2 separate regions of the Homo sapiens genome follow, and region 1 is linked to region 2. Evidence: fine-mapped expression QTL. A gene starts in region 2. The other region holds a variant in brackets. All regions are shown on one strand. Distances are from middle to middle.

The links. PIP is the estimated chance that this variant, and not a neighbour inherited with it, causes the effect. A credible set is the group of variants that fine-mapping cannot tell apart.
Region 1: its variant is the best candidate, but not a certain one, in a credible set for the expression of DNAJB6 in whole blood (INTERVAL, PIP 0.52).

The regions. Positions count from the first base shown.
Region 1 is chr7:157,413,066-157,415,864 of GRCh38, reverse strand. All of the region lies in intron 9 of DNAJB6 (DnaJ heat shock protein family (Hsp40) member B6), which reads right to left. Among named protein-coding and RNA genes, the nearest start is that of DNAJB6, 77 kb to the right of the region's middle. The variant G/A (reference allele first, on the strand shown) is at 1,196.
Region 2 is chr7:157,335,546-157,338,344 of GRCh38, reverse strand. It overlaps DNAJB6 (DnaJ heat shock protein family (Hsp40) member B6), which reads right to left and starts at 1,341. Exons shown (of 10, transcript NM_058246.4): 1 at 1,201-1,341. RefSeq lists enhancers at 109-158, 887-1,390, 1,391-1,893 and silencers at 819-1,008, 1,069-1,278, 1,469-1,628.

The DNA of each region.
Region 1 (2,799 bases), 78 kb before region 2:
CGCTTTCCAAGGTGCACGTTGAGAACTGCTCACACTACCCAGAGAGCTTCACCACCCTGCAGAGAAGTGAGGACTCCCACCTACCCGAGTTCCGCCCAGCGGCAGAGCTAAAAGCCCACCCTGGGACTACCCCAGTTCTGCCCAGCGGCAGAGCTAGAAGCCCACCCTGGGCACGGCTGCACCTCAGTCCTGGAACCCCACCCTGGGACCTACCCCAGTTCCGCCCAGCGGCAGAGCTAGAAGCCCACCCTGGACACGGCTGCACCTCAGTCCCGGAACCCCACCCTGGGCTCTCCTTCAGAACGCACACTGGGCCTGCGCAAAGGTGTGCCCACCTGTGGGGAGGGTGTCCACAGGTGTCTCCTCCGCTTCCCCCGCTGGCCACAGTGCAGCCTTTCTGCAGGCAAAGCCTTGGTGTGGACTGGCCTCATGTTTGCCAGCTCTGTGCCATCCAGCGTGAGAAAGTCCCATTTCTTATTGAGGAAAGTCTTTCATTTCCCTGTTGCTAAAGTCAATGGCTGACACTGACTGATCCAGCTGAAGTGCATGGAGAAAGACGCCCACCCTCTGAACGTCTGATCCAACGTGCCAGAAATAAACACCTCTGGATTCATTTCTGCAGAAACTGTCTTGAACTCAGTGTGTGCCAACGTGGGTGCAGGAAACAGGCCCGATGTTGAATTTGGCCACAATTGTCAACATGACTGGGCAGAGGGAACATGGCCGGCAGCAGGCAGGGCAGGCCTGGGTCCCACACGCACAGGCCCTCAACCTGCCAGAACTCTCCAAAGACCCACACAACTTCACATGGTGGCATCGTGCCTCACAGGAAGGTGCCTGCTCACAGCCCTCTTGGGGGCCTGAGGCCCTGCCCACACTCAGGACTCGCCCCAGAGAATCACAATCATGGTAGGCCGGGTGCCAGGCTCCAATCAGATGCATTCCACACCCAGCTGACGGCCGCCACGCTGACCAACATGTCACAGGTGCAAGTCCACTGAGTGTGGCTCACACATGTCCTGGACCACAGTGGGGCAAACACATGTGGACTTTCAAATGTGCTGTGGCTCTCACCACTGAGCACTGCCTGGACCCCGACAGCTCTCCACGAGAGAGGGACAAGCCTGCAGATCCAGTCCACACCCCACCCACAACCACACCACACCACACTCGCCTGTGACCCGTGCACAGTGGA[G/A]GCTGCCACCTTCCTCGCCAGAGGAGCGCGTCCTAACCGCCCTACAGGAGCAGCACGAGATGCGCGTTCAGAACCGCCAAGCGTTCCATGCTGCATATTTAGGAAATGTGCCTCAAGCTACGGTTACGGAAAGAAAGAACGAACAGAGAGAGGCCTGTGTGCCGTTGGCGGCTGCAGAGGCCGCTGAGTACCTGCTTCCAAAGCAGGGAGGCGGCTCTGCGGAAAACGCAGAGGAAAGGAAGCGGGAGGAAGCCAGGAGATCTCCGTCCCGAGGAGCATGCGGGGAGCCGCCGTGACTGTGGAGGGCGGCCAGGGCAGAGCCAGCTCTTGGAGGCCGTGTCCCTCAGAGGAGCCTCGTGCCCCGGGACCCAAGGGACCCCGTGGGATGGGGGCGGGGTGGGGGGGTCAGCACCGCCTGCGGTTCCTCCGCTTCAGCAAAGCAAACTTTACCAAGACCCCAGAACAAAGGGAGTAACGGAGCTCCTTTAAAGCAACTGCTGCCACTGGGCCTTTATGAGCTAGGGACGGAAAGCCTGAGGTGACCACACTGCAGTCGCCCTCACCCGCCCTGGGGCTGCCGGGATGGTGGGGGAGGGGCGGGTCCGGTACAAGGAAACCACTTTCCGGTGTTCTTCAAGCCTCCACTATTGCCGGGCGCGGTGGCTCCCGCCTGTAATCCCAGCACTTTGGGAGGCTGAAGCGGGGGGATCACCTGAGGTCAGGAGTTCGAGAGCAGCCAGTCCAACATGGAGAAACCACATCTCTACTAAAAATACAAAAATGAGCCAGAAGTGGTGGCAAGCACCTGTAGTTCCGGCCACTGGGGAGGTGAGGCAGGAAAATCGCTGGAACCCTTGAGGCAGAGGTTGCAGTGAGCCGAGATCACGCCACTGCACTCCAGCCTGGGCGACAGAGCGAGACTGTCTCAAAAAAAAAAAAAAAAAAAAAAAAGTCCAAAATTGAAGTGAGAAAAACAGAGCAGGCCTTCCTGTCACCTGAACCTCCTGCAAATCACAGACATGGCCTTGGGCACCGGCTCGCGGGCTCTGGGACTTCGTGGGACCGCCAGCCTTGGGCACAGTCCACAGAGGCACGCTCTCCCACCAGTGACTACTTAAAAACTTGTCCTGATAGAAAACGACTTAAGTTTTCTTATCAAGTTTAAGGACTTGAAAACCCTTAAGTATAAATACACAAATTAGTTTCATTAAAAAGACAAACTTCGAGCTGTTGAAAGCTGAGGGCAGGGTTAGATTCCCATCTTCAGTTCCGAGAGCTCCATGCTGTGCTTCACAAAAAGGGAGACATTCTACAGCGTTCCAGGGCAGGCTGCTTTCCTCAGCCAAAAAAACAAAGGACCTGCTTTATTCTTTCTTTCCTGTTCAGTAATTTTACTTTTCCTTTTTTAACAGTTACGTGTTCTTGATACTCCTACAGTATGTGTGGAATTCACAAACACAAAACATCACTCGGCCTTTCCAAAGCCTGAGTGAGGATCCGGTGGGTTCCCGGTGGTGCCTCTGTCCTCTGAACGCAGGCAGGGCGAGCGCTGGGTTTGAGGACTCCACACAGCAGCAAATGCCAGCCACGGGAACCCCACACCA
Region 2 (2,799 bases):
AAAAAAAAGGAAGTCTGGAGTAAACCCAGAGAGAACGCGGGACGGGTGGACTGGCGGAGGAGTAAGGCGGCTGCATATAATTCCTTTCAGAAATCATGAATCGTTCTGATACGCAACACTATTTGGAAAAGTGCGGTTAAACACGAAGCAGCAGCAATCAAGCTTTAATGGTTAACGTCTGTTTCCTTTCTTCGGTCTTCACTCTAACTTTTCTACTAAATCAATAATTTGGCTTAAATTGTAGCGACAAATCCTTACTAAAATTCGCAACTCAATAAAAACGTTGAAAACTACAAAGAGCGCCGCTCAGCCTACTCTTCCCAAACAGGCTGAAGCCTCCGAGCTCGCAGGCGGCACCCCTTCGGTGGTGGCACGATCGTTCTACTTGCGCTGTTTCCTGCCCCGTTTACGTGAGAAGTTAGCACAGAAGTTTACGTCTGACTAGCAAACCCATCCTTTAAAAAATTCGCTAGTGCCAAAACCTTTCTCGAGCCAATATATGATTTGCAGTTTACACTGCGTGTGTCACTGACCTTCCTTAGGTAAGAGTTAATGTAAACTTCTTATATAAACTTCAGTTGCATCAACTACGGTGCAGATTCTTTAACGCAAAGCAAAGCAGACAAACATTCTGAGTGAGAAAGGCAGCCTGCTCTTCCACAAACTTCTGAACAATCCGTCCGGAGTTCTAGAAACAGGGCTTTGCGGTCCCCCACCTGCTTCTTCTCCCTCCGAACTTGGCGGCACGGCTGCGGCATTCCTGCTCCGCAAGCCACTCCCGTTTCTGGTTTCAGACGCGAGTGCGGGAGCCTTAGAAAAAGAAGGCGCTCCACGCCTCCCACGCTGCCGGCCCCGCCGAGCCCCAGCCGAGCCCCAGCCGGCCGCTCCCAGGCCGGGCCCCACCCCCAACCGCCGCCGCGGAGGCTGGGCCGCGTTCCGGCAAGGACGCCGGGCGGGGAGGACGCGGCCGGGCGGCCCCAGACCCCAGCCCCGGCCCCGGCCCCAGACCTGACCCAGAGGACCCCGCCCACCCTTCGCCCCGCAACCCCGGCCACGGCCCCCGCCCCGTCCAGTCCTTTCCCCGGCCGGCGACCCCGGTCACCCCCCGCGCTGTTGCCAGGCGCCGGGTGAGGTCCGCCGTCTGCCGGGCGCGCGCGGGGCCCTAGGCGACCTCCCCCGACCCTCGGAACAGACCCTCACCGAGGACAGAAGCGGCCGGTGGCGGGACGCAGGGGAGGCAGGGTGACGGCCCGAATCTCCTCACAGCTCCAGGACTGCTGCGCTGGTGGTGGCGGCGGCTCCTCGCGCTTTCCTTTCTCTCCTTTCTCCAACAACAAACAGGAAATGCGTCACGCGGCGGCGGCACGGCGGCGTCAACTTCCGCCCGACCCTGACGCCGCGCATGCGCAGTTTCCACTGCCCATACCGCGGGCCCAACCTCGGGGGCGCCCGCCCCACCTTCGCGAAGGTTCTCGGCTCTTCCGCCGCCCCGAAGAGCCCAGGAGACTGGGGGCGAGGGGGCGGGGAAGCCCAGGGCGAGGGGGCGGAGCTCGGGGCCGGGTCTACGGTACCGGGGAGCCCAGACGCGCGGAAGGCACAGAGAAGGCCGAGAAGATTCCAAATGGCACTTATTGTTGGGCCAGAAGGAGCCCATTCTGGAAACCGCGAAGTCGTCGCGCCCTTCATCTTCCTCTTGACCGGCGGCCCCCGGAGCGCGTCTGCCGCCTCTCGCTCCGCGGTCCTGCGGTGGAGCTGGGTGGCATCTCCGCACAGCGGGACGAAAGCTGGGGCGCGGGCGCGGGCGCGGGCGGAGAAGTCCCCGAAGGAGAAGAAGAACAAACCAAGCGGCGGCCAGCGAAGGCGGGCGAAGGCGCCGGCCCCCGCTTGTCAATTTAGGGAAGCCCGGATACCCTAAGTTCCCCGGCGAACGGGAGCGCGTGGAGACTTCGCCAGGGAATAGTGACTGAAGGAAACGGAAGCAAACTGTGGCAGAAAATACAGATGAAGCTTTTTAGGTTAAATCGTGGCAGTAGTTTTTCTGAAAACGCGGCGCATTTTGATAGCTGGACTTTAGGTCATCCCCAGGCTTCCTAGCCTTTCCCGCGTCCTCAGGGGTTCTGGTTCTAACCCTGGAGACCAACACCACATGCGTGTAGATGGTGACCAGCAGGAGCAGGGAGTCTCAGACCCAGTGCAGTCAGACAGGCTCCCATTCCCAGTAGCGAAAGGGTCCCGCAGACCCAAAGCCTAAGGAGCCAACAAGCAGTTCGTCCATGGAGCCTGGCCTGGATCTCCCACTGTCTTCCTCTCCAGCATTCAGCCAGATGTTTGCTACTGTGTTGTCTTAGTCCTGGCCCACCTTATCCTTTCCTTTAAGAAATAAAAATCTCAACTGGGTGCGGTGGCTCACGCCTGTAATCCCAACACTTTGGGAGGCCAAGGCGGGCGGATCACCTGAGGTTGGGAGTTCGAGACCAGCCTGACACATGGAGAAACCCCGTCTCTACTAAAAATGCAAAAAAAATTAGCCAGGTGTGGTGGTGCATGCCTGTAATCCCATCTACTGCAGAGGCTGAGGCAGAATAATCGCTTGAACCCAGGAGGAGGAGGTTGCAGTGAGCGGAGATCACACCATTGCACTCCAGCCTGGGCAACAAGAGCGAAACTCTGTCTCAAGAAAAAAGAAAAATCCCTTTTTGTTACACCTTTCCTGAACTTCAGATCCTGTGGCATGCTGACACTGAATTCCGGGGGCCTGCTCAGCCACCTTCTGAACTAACAACGCTTATGAATTCGTGA